Homo sapiens: one gene and its partners. The protein of the gene in region 1 interacts with the protein of each later gene in a pairwise test. Each region holds a gene or a part of one and is shown in the gene's direction. Other genes may lie near its edges.

Region 1 (3,655 bases):
GCTGAATCCCATGCTGAAGTCCAGAGAGTTTTAAAGTCTTTCCATGGCACATTCCTAAAATGTGACAGTGATGGGACTCAACTTTAAATGCTATCTCCAATACTATATGACTGTCTCTTTTTAGGTTTAATGGAAGTTATCTGTCTGGGTTGTACAAGAGTAAAGTGGTGTTGACTCTGGACTCAGAACTATCCTATCACAGTTGTAGGGTTAACTTTCAAGGGAGTTATTTAATAATGTCTGAAATGACCCAGACATACTCTCGCCAGCTTACCTAGAAACCATCAGTTTGTACTTTCCGTGGAATCTTTATATTTATTTCCCTTAAACTCCTTCCTGACTTTAATAGATGAGATATTATTGGTATGGTATGTTTCATTTTCTAAAATATGTAACAGTGCCTAAATAGGACATGTAGCTATCCAAGCTCAGTTTGTTATATAGCACAAATAATCCCACAGGAACAATCTACAGCTGACATGCAACCTCACCTCCCCCAAATCTACTAATGTAAGTGAAATGTAAATTGCACCATTATCACGTTATATGCTAACGTCAGCGTAGTTGAATTGTCTATGGGTTGCCATGACAACCCCAGCTAAGATAAAAAAATGAAACTGGTATTCACAATACATATTTACCTAGAGCTTATTTTGTCTTCTAGGCTCTTCAATGGCCAACAAGGAATTATTATTCAAAATTTTAGCACAAGATCCATTCTCACTGTTACCAACGTGACACAGGAGCACTTCGGCAATTATACCTGTGTGGCTGCCAACAAGCTAGGCACAACCAATGCGAGCCTGCCTCTTAACCGTAAGTAATGCAATGGTACCAAAATGCTTCCAGGGGCCTCTGGGCCCCTATCCATCTGTAGAGATAAAACCTAAGAATGGAGTACGTTCATTTTAAAACTCAACCTGATGTGACACATTCCTTATACATCACGCAATCCTTACACATGGAAACTTTGCTCCCAAATCATATAGTTGTCCAAGGATTTTATAATCCCTGTAGAAGTCGACATGTGTTTAAAAAAATATGTTAGAGCTGAGAAAGGAAAAAATACATAAATAATAGGGCTAACTGAAAAAGTGTCTTTTGGCTGAAGTCAGTAGATTTGGTGAGATTTTGTTGTTTTTTAAATGTATTGCATATTCTTGAAGTATAGATTAACATGGCTTGAATTTACTCTTGGTTGGTTTTCATAAAACATTCATCTTGGGGTAGCCAGAATTTCACAAGCCATACATAAAATGAAACAGTAAGTAAATGATCATGGACAAAATATTTTATCCATATAGATAATATTTTTACTCAAAATTGTATTTTAAAATAAAACTTAAGATTTTATTCAAATAAATACTACATTTCTAATGTATCTTACTTCCTAAGGACTAAAAATTAATAAAGAAGCACAAACACAAGGATCGGGTAAAAGGCTAGAAACCTCCATGAATGTTTCCTCCTATAATTAATTTTACTGCTGTTTAGAAGCTGAGTAACCAACAAATTGTTGCAGCCACAAAATATTCTTAATTTTGAAATCAAATGTTTCTCAAAATGTTCAAAGAAGACTAGAGAGAGTATACTGTCTTTTCAGTGCCACAAAGTTATCTGAATTATCCTTATCTCTTAGAGTTAATATTTTATGGTAACTTGACAAATGTATATTTGTCTTACGATCTTGTTATAGTAAGCTATCTCTGAAAAATGCAAATATTGTATAGTTCATCATAAATATCATTTCTGTTTTGCAGAAATGGGGATGGGATATATGATGTTCCTACAACTTAAAAATATACTGTAATAAGTTTCCATGATTTATGAGCTTTACATTACCATAATTTAAGAATGCTGATGTGAAATAAAACATATCAGTTTATATTACATCTTTTATTATCCCAGCCTAATATCCTTTAGCACTCGATTTGAAAGAAAAACATTGCTTGCCATGCAATAGTTATAGTATAATATGCTTGCTTAAGTTCCTTCCATGAGGATGATTTATTTAGTGAAATTATGAATAATATAAACCATTGAAAATATTATAAAGCAGTGTGAATTCCAACTTAATGTAAATATTGATACTTCTTTGGTATATTATTAATATTTTAAATGGTTTAAATATTCAAGCACTTGAAAGAATAAATGAATTAACACGGCAAAGTAAAGAAAAATTTAAGGCTTAATAACATATTACGTTTTGCTATTTAAATTTCTAAATTACATTCTGATTTTCAAAACTGAAACATTAATGAATGTGAAAAATTAGGAACAAATGCCACTTGTGTAAACATTTGTTTTACTCTGGCAATCTTAACACAAATGTCTGGAAATAATATAGTGCTGAAAAGGCTTCTAAACGTAGTGCCTTCAGAAGAGACTCTCATCATCTCTCTCTGCCATTGACTTGCTGTATGCTGAGGTGCTATTAAGTACATACAATTTGATTAATTTGTTAATAAAGGCAAATGTGAAAATCTTGTCTGTAATTATGAACATAGCCCTGGGAGTTTGAAAAAATGTTCATATATTCAGAACCCCTGGTATGACCTCATCTGAAGCTCTTACTGCACTAAGCATTTTTATTTTGTCTTATAGTTATTTTTATATATATTCCATCTCTCCATCAAATTATAAGTTCTTTAAAAAGACAGGATCTATGTCTGATTAGTTATTTTATTTCCCATATCACCAAGCACAGCACCTGCTATTTAATAAGCAAGGAGTAAATCTTTAGTGAATAAATGAATTAAACATTGAGTAAATGAATGGATGGATTAATGAATAAATAAATGAGTGAATGAGTTTTAGCTGTAGAATTTGTACTTGTAACCTCTACAGATACAAGGCAATATGACTGTAATTACAAATAGCACATTGTTAGCTTACTCTGAAACAGACCCTATTCTTATTTTTTATATAAACTTGTTCATTTAATTCTCACAAAATCCAAAGAGCTAGATTCTGTAATTCTCCTCTTCTAGAAAAGGAAACTTAGAGAATATAAATGTGGCTGAAGCCAAATGGTTAGTGACAAAGCAAAACCTTAAACCCTGACAATCTGGCTTCAGATTCTAAGCTTTTATCTACAATGCCTACACCCGGCAAAGCACGGCACTAGATGTTGGAAAGAAAAGGGTGAGTAGGACTGGAACCCCATCCTGAAGGAGTTCTCAGATGAGTGAGAAGTGAGAAACAGTCAAGCAAGCAACGATAATGCAATAAGGTCAGTGGTACCATAATGGGGCAGAGAAGGTGCTCTTACTATAGTCTCAAGGGTCATGAAAGAACTTTTATCTAGAGTAGCCAATACCACTATCTGAATTATATCTAAGGTACAACTCAAAACATCATCTTAGCAATGACTATCTCACTTTCTGGGGCAGAACTTTGCAGGAGCTCATTCAACAACAATCATGTGCACAAAGTATAGTGACACAAAAAAGAGAATGATCAACTCAGTCAGTCTCAAGGACTCAGGGAAAAATATAAAGGAGATGCCCCTTGAGGTAAAGGTGATTAGGATGAGCCTGGGTGTGGGAATGGTGATGGAAGAAAGAGAGAGGCAAGCACTCTAGTGTTGAACCGCTCATGTAAAGACATGGCAGTATGAAACAATTCAATACATTTGAAGACACAATAGTACTTT
Region 2 (3,655 bases), on another chromosome or scaffold:
TTGCCTCCTTTTGGCCATTAAACAAATGTGTATAGAGGGCCTGCTATGTGCCATGTGCTATGCCAGGCACTAAGGATACGGCACTGAACCCTCTTAGCACTCTCATTCCAGAGGGGATTAATCCATAAGTAGAATGGGGGTGACTGGAATAGGGCCAGCTGGGGGCTTGGAGGCATGAAGATCAGATCCTGAATCAGAACAACAGGAGAAATTCTCTGGCATTCAACTCACATCTCTGGCATTCAGAGGTGATAAAGGCTACAGCAGGGCAATAGGACTGGGACTGTCGTCTCCTTTGGCTGTGCTGTTGCCCTCTAAATGTACCCTGCTTTTTCCCACCTTTTCTTTCTCTGTTCGCCCTCACTGTGCCTTGTCCCAGCATTCTCAGACACCATCCACATTGAACCCCACAATGCCAGCCTCTGAGCGGACAGTGGCCTGGGTCTCCAACATGCCTCACCTGTCGGCTGACATCGAGAGTGCCCACATCGAGCGGGAAGAGTACAAGCTCAAGGAGTACTCAAAATCGATGGATGAGAGCCGGCTGGATAGGGTACGATGGGCTCTACCAGCTCCAAGCCCCAGTGTTTCCTTTTACCCACAGGGGAGATCTCTAGTCACTTCCAAGGGAAACCTCCAGGGTCAGTTATGGTGGTAAGAAAAGGCAAAGACCTGATCACCTCTTGAGAAGCCTTCCGTCCATCTGGGGAGACCAGATACACACAGTTGTTAAAAGTCACTTTCAACTCTATTTTGTAGGTTATATATATCATAGACTATCTGGGGATCATCTATTTTAGGCTTACCTCCATGTTCTTCCCCAGGAGGAACATAAGCCCTGGCTCCTGTGACTGCTTAGGAAAGGAAATGTTACTTTACTGGCAGTAGGAGCTAATAAATTGGATGGGGATGGAGGGGGTTGCAGCTATATTACAAGTGATGTCTGGCCTACCCAGTCACTGTCCCATGGGCATAAGTGACAGTCAGTGGGCAGGGAATGCATGTGGTAAAGTAGTATGTATCAGTCATGTGTGAAAAGACCATCCAGACCCTCACTTGGTGGAGGCTGAGGGCAAAGGGCACCAAGAGCTCTGGGGCTAACACAGATAACTTAGCAGAAAGTTACTTGAGGAAGCTGTTGTTCCTAGGGCCTGAGGAAGAGGGCGGCTGCAGGATTAGGTCATATATAAAGAACATATGATCCTAACACGGGGAAGTGGTCTTTGAGCATAGGAAATGTTGGGACTGACTCAGATGGGCTTGACCAGCAAATTTAATGAGAATTAAACCCTAATATTAGCCCCAAGGCAGCCACCGTAGGAAGTTAATTCACATCTCTCCTCTGCATGTAGAAGGGTTGGTGATATATGTATGTATCCTCTTCAGAGAATGAGGAAATAGTCTTTTGAATCATTTTTTTTTCTGTGCTTCAGATGAGGAAACCTTGTTGAGAAAGGCTGTAGACTAGCACTATCCAATATAACTTTCTGCAGTGATGAAATGTTCTGTAATCTGTAGTGTTCACATGTGTCTAGTTGTGATTCAGGAACTGAATTTTTAGATCTATTTAATTTTAATTTTGTAATTTTTTTGAGACAGGGTCTTGCTCTGTCACCCAGGCTGGAGTGCAGTGGTGCAAACATGGCTCGAGGCAACCTCCGCCTCCTGGGCTCAAGACATCCTCCCACCTCAGCCCCCTGAGTAGCTAGGACTACAGGGTCGTGCTACCATGCCTGGCTAGTTTTTTTTCTTTTCTTTTTTTTTTTTTTTTTTTTTTGTAGAGACGGGGTTTTGCCATGTTGCCCAGGCTGGTCTAGAACTTGTGAGCTCAAGTGATCTACCTGCCTCAGCCTTCCAAAGTGCTGGGATTACAGGTGTTGAGCCACTGTGCCTGGCCTAAATTTTAAATAGCTACATGTGGGCTGGTGGCTACCATATTAGACAGCACAGCTGTAGACTCTAGAGCCAATAGGGCAGATAAAATGACTCTTCTGAGCTCTTCCAGCTCTGGAATTCCTAGATTCTCAGCCTAGAATTCACTTGTAGACCTCCTATCCTTGGCACCTTGACAGAGCCAAGGAGAGGGTCACATGGAGGACAGCACCTGCCTTTCCCCCGTCAATTGCCTTTTCTTCCTATGTCTCCAGCATGTGTTCTGGGGCCTGGCTTAGGGCTGAAGAGTCACCCTATTTTTAATTTCTGAGCACAGTTACTCAAGGTGTGTTTGTGAGTGTAGGTTTCTGTGTGGGTCTTCATGAGGGGCCATACATAGACCTCAGGGTGTGGGAGTCTGTGACCTTGCTCCATTTTGAGGGAACCTCAGCACCATGGCAGGGTCTTCTCAAAAGCAGGTGTGTGGATATGATCCACAGGCAGGGAAGGGGTTGGGGAAGGCAGCTGGATGTCCCTCAACATGCAGTGGCTGTGCTTGGCAGACAGGGATGGAGGCTGGGTGGTGGGCTTGGGGTGGGGCGCCCCTCATAGTGCGGGGTCGTGTGCCCGGCGGGCAGGTGAAGGAGTACGAGGAGGAGATTCACTCACTGAAAGAGCGGCTGCACATGTCCAACCGGAAGCTGGAAGAGTATGAGCGGAGGCTGCTGTCCCAGGAAGAACAAACCAGCAAAATCCTGATGCAGTATCAGGCCCGACTGGAGCAGAGTGAGAAGAGGCTAAGGCAGCAGCAGGCAGAGAAGGATTCCCAGATCAAGAGCATCATTGGCAGGTGAGGGGCGGCCTGGGGAGGGGGTTGTGAGGGAGAGCCTGAGGCTGGAGAGAGCAAGTGGGTGAGCTACTCCGCTGACTCCCATCCCCAAACTCAGGAGCCCACCAGGAGAGCCCACCACTCTCCTCCCCAGGAAGCCACCCACTCACTCATCACCAGATGGAGAGAAACCCCAACCTGCTTAGTGCATTAAATATCTCTTTACCAAACCCTGACCTCTCTTCTGATAGAGTAGCTTCGGAAGCCCTTGGAAAATGTACCTGTTCCTGTCCAACCATCACTGCATTTGCATTTACCCTAGGCCAGAGCTCCCCACTAGTTATTCTCAACTTAACCTGTGATGTTCACTCCAAACCTAAGCAGGGCTCCCTAGCCAGAGTAGGCCCTGCCCTTCCTGGGTGGACCCTCCCTCTCTAGCCTTGGAAAGGTGTTCTGTTAGAAAGGGTCTTTTAGCCTGTGTATGTTTTCAGCTGCTCCAGCAAGTCCTGGGCTCCAAAGAGGGTATCCTCAGCAAAGAGGTCAATTATCTTCAGAGTGGTGGGGTCGGGGTGGGGGGGACCCTGGGCGCACTCCAACCAGAGCCACCTCCATTTTGATCCATTCTAAATGTATTTTATGTAAGATTTAATTAGAAGAAAAGGGCTTCTTGAAATATTTTTTGAAAACCACTGCTCTAATTGATATCCTTTATGATAAATCACCTCGAGGATCTTCACAGTGAGGTGACATGGGGGATGCAGAAGCCAGGTCCTCAGCCATGGAAGGTCTGGGGAAGGGGCACTGCTGTCCTGATTGGGACGATGGAGGCCTGGAGGTGTCTGGATGGTAGAAGTCTTTGAGGCACAGAAAGCTGCCTTAGCAGGGAGGTGTAAGGGTTCCTGGGAGGAAGGTGGAGAGCATGATCCTGAGGAACAGGGAGTCTTGCATCACGGC
Region 3 (3,655 bases), on another chromosome or scaffold:
GAAAGGGAAAATAGGAATATTTTCATCCAAAGGAAGGTTGAAGCAAACGTCTTCAAGGTTTAAGTTTAAACTGTGACCCTTACCATTAAGAATGCGAGATAAGACTCTAGGAATGTTTGGAATTTCTCTGATTGAAGTTTAATTCCTTTAATATGATCATTTATGGATATGGTCTTGATATTATTTAGTTTGACAAATATTAACTTTCTCTTGATCAAAAAACCAACTAGCTTCTTTATCATCTGAATTAAAGGCTATGATTTTAGCAGCAAGATGAATCAAGATTCTGACTTCTAATTGGGCATTATTCTTAAAGATTCCATCCTGGGAAACAGTCCGAGGAGAATGAGTTGACCCTAAATGGGAGAGCAGAGCACCTTCCCATTAGGTGGTGGGCAGCCTAGCTGGCTTATTTCTCCTCCTATTCTCCTATTCCAATTCATTTTTCTTTTGCAGGTTCTGTGGATGGAGTTATAAAGGAAGTGAATGTGAGCCCATGCCCCACCCAACCCTGCCAGCTGAGCAAAGGACAGTCTTACAGCGTCAATGTCACCTTCACCAGCAGTGCGTAAAAGTGGCTCTTAACTCAAATTCATGTTACAGCATAACCTAAATATCAAGTGTTGGAATAAGCATGGGAATGGAGGGGAGGGGAATTGGCAGTCATGAATTTTATGATTTCTTTTGCACCTCATGCAAAGCTAGGGTTCACTGTGCCCTTGGACACCCTTCTCATGCAGGGTCCATGGCTCCCAGACTCCCTTTAAGCAAACAGGGAGATGTCCATGTGTTCACAGGTTAGAGAAGACAGCTTGGCTTTTCTGTCTTGACCCATATTGCATAGTAGGCTATGATGGGAATGTCAGCTCTGTTTAGCTACAGACTGCAGAGTATTAGTATGGACCCCAATTCTTTAAGCTTTGGAACTCCTCCAAAATGTTGTTTTAAGCAGTAATGCCTTTCAGCTATTAAGTCTACATCCCACCTGAAAATAAAGGTGCAACTAATACTTAACAGCCTCCTTAAGATTTAGGGAACCCACTGGGGACCCAAGAAATAGCCAAGAAATCTGAGCTTTCTTCTCCAATATTCAAGAAATATCATTGGAACTTTTTGCTTTCTTGTACCACATCACTTTGAGATTTTTAAGAATCTAGACAAATGTAAAATCTTTTATTACTAAGCAGGGCATGTTCCTTGAATCTTTTCCTCATTTTCTGTCCTGTGAAACTAGACTAGACAGTCTAATAAGAAACCTCAAAGTTCCTGTCATCTTTTGTTCATAAGCCTAAAGACAGCTCTAAGTACTAGCTCCCTGTTTCCTCTCTGGACTATACCCTGGCCTCTCTATTGTTCCAAACCAAAAAAAAAAGCCTTCTGAACAAGTCATCCCCAACCCAGACAGAAGGAAAGAAACAGAACCAATTTTCTGGGTCTCCAAAATACCCTAATAACTCATAAGTCTGATTGCCCTCATTTTTTAATACCTTTATTCCTCCTGGCCATCTTGTGATGTGGAGGGTAAAGTTTATAAAGAATTGCATGTCTTTCTAATCTTACCCAATTTCTTTTTTTTTTTTTTTTTTTTTTTTTTTTTTGTGACAGAGTCTCGCTCTGTCACCCAGGCTGGAGTGCAGTGGCGCAATCTCAGCACACTGCAACCTCCGCCTCCTGGGCTCAAGCGATTCTCCCGCCTCAGCCTCTTGAGTAGCTGAGATGACAGGCATGCGCCACCACGCCCGGCTAATTTTTGTAGTTTTAGTAGAGACAGGGTTTTTCCATGTTGGCCAGGCTGGTCTCAAACTCCTGACCTCAGATGATCCACCCGCCTCAGCCTCCCAAAGTGCTGGGATTACAGGTGGGAGCTACTGTGATCCAGCCTAATCTTACCCTGCTAAAGGGTTACCTCTTTCACTGTTGTTACAGACCATGACATTTAAGACACACAATATACTTGGACAGAAGCTGATATAAATAGCAAACAGAAAGTTTACTGCCAAAAATCAGTTGCCTTGTTAGATAAGGTTGTTTATCCAGGTATCTCTGATTCTCCTAAGAAACTGTGAAGGGCCATGAAGAGCAAGGTTAAGAGCAAAGAAAACTTCTGCTGATTGTTTTTTTTTTTTTTTTTTTTTTTGCATAATTGTGTTTGGAGTGAATGCTTGCACTGTGCTAGTACCAAGCACCACTATCAAGAGAAATAGACCCTAGGAATGCTGTTGCTTGGGATTATTTCTGAATTTTTGATTTAGAGTTTGAAAATAGGTTATTTTCTTTGCCATCTGATTCTCTTTTTTTCTCTTAGATATTCAGTCTAAAAGCAGCAAGGCCGTGGTGCATGGCATCCTGATGGGCGTCCCAGTTCCCTTTCCCATTCCTGAGCCTGATGGTTGTAAGAGTGGAATTAACTGCCCTATCCAAAAAGACAAGACCTATAGCTACCTGAATAAACTACCAGTGAAAAGCGAATATCCCTCTGTAAGTGATACCATTATTGAGGACACGGGAGGCCTTGGGACTGGATTAGAGTTCTGAGGGCAGTGGGCAAGAAGCAGAGATGGGGGTAAAGGGCCCCTTATCTCTATGATGAAGAAGAAGCCCGAGGGAAAGGAGATAGGTGCGGTGTTAGGCATCAGGAGGTAGGGCAGGTCTTTTTCTCTGTGTCTCTTCATTCTTTCACTATGACCTGATGGTTAGCCTGGGCCTAATGATGCCATTTGTTTTTTAATATACTAAAATTTAATCATACATAAGAACTGTAATTTAATCTGACAGTAAAACACAAGAAGCAATATTAGAGTTGGTTTAGTATATTGTATATTTTAGCTTTGAAAGTCGTAGAAATCAGTTACCCCAGTTTTTTTCCTATAAAAGACCCATTTTTCCAAAGCATTATGCACAATTTCAATTAGAATATAATGACAGAGGATATTCCATAATTTTTAAAATATAAAATGAGGTAATTGATTCAAAAAAGTTATCTACTGCAATATCAATATCATTACAGATATAAAGTATGATGGTTCAACTTTTTAGTGCTTGATAGGGAGGAATCATGATAAAAAGGTCAATATGAAATCATTTGATTATAGTAGCAATATCTAACATTTGAAATGCATCCATGCTCTTTTGTATAATCATATTAGAGTCAAGTATATTTTCACATCTGTTATGTCTTATTTTCCAAGAGATATACACAGAGCAGTTTTTTTTCTCCAGGGAACTTATACAAACCAATATAAGATCTAAATTCTTCACATAATGTATAAAACAGGAGAAGCCTCTTCAAATTTATTTTTTGAAGTCTGGAATGCTGGCACTTTCCAATTAGGCAATAGTTCTTCATTCCTGTAACCTAGCTCAGAGCTGCTGCTGACTATGGGCCTAGAGCAGCAGACATGATTTCTTTTTAGGCTGTTTCTTTTCCACTGGTGTTTTTCTATTTATCTGTCTGACCAGGTCATAAAATATTTCATTAACATTGACCTTTGACTTTGCAGATTATTCTAAAATGGCACAGTTCCATCACTGTCATGCTAAATTCTGGCCCTGTTCTTTGCCAACTACTCACTCATCTTCCAGGTCACATTTATTGCCAACCAAAATCATTGGAACATCTTCTGTGTCCTTAACCAGTAAAATCTGTTCCCTCAGG

Evidence for each region.
Region 2: the proteins of NEGR1 (region 1) and SYNGAP1 interact in binary tests that used the Homo sapiens proteins (3 or more experiments, as listed by UniProt).
Region 3: the proteins of NEGR1 (region 1) and NPC2 interact in binary tests that used the Homo sapiens proteins (3 or more experiments, as listed by UniProt).

Annotation. Positions count from the first base shown.
Region 1 is NC_000001.11:71,589,978-71,593,632, reverse strand, and holds part of NEGR1 (neuronal growth regulator 1 precursor), read left to right. Parts: intron 1-664; coding exon 665-816; intron 817-3,655. UniProt on the Homo sapiens protein: May be involved in cell-adhesion. May function as a trans-neural growth-promoting factor in regenerative axon sprouting in the mammalian brain.
Region 2 is NC_000006.12:33,444,065-33,447,719, forward strand, and holds part of SYNGAP1 (ras/Rap GTPase-activating protein SynGAP), read left to right. Parts: intron 1-379; coding exon 380-553; intron 554-2,510; coding exon 2,511-2,722; exon of another isoform or gene 2,723-2,734; intron 2,735-3,655. UniProt on the Homo sapiens protein: Major constituent of the PSD essential for postsynaptic signaling. Inhibitory regulator of the Ras-cAMP pathway.
Region 3 is NC_000014.9:74,483,238-74,486,892, reverse strand, and holds part of NPC2 (NPC intracellular cholesterol transporter 2 isoform 2 precursor), read left to right. Parts: intron 1-456; coding exon 457-564; intron 565-2,305; coding exon 2,306-2,478; intron 2,479-3,655. UniProt on the Homo sapiens protein: Intracellular cholesterol transporter which acts in concert with NPC1 and plays an important role in the egress of cholesterol from the lysosomal compartment.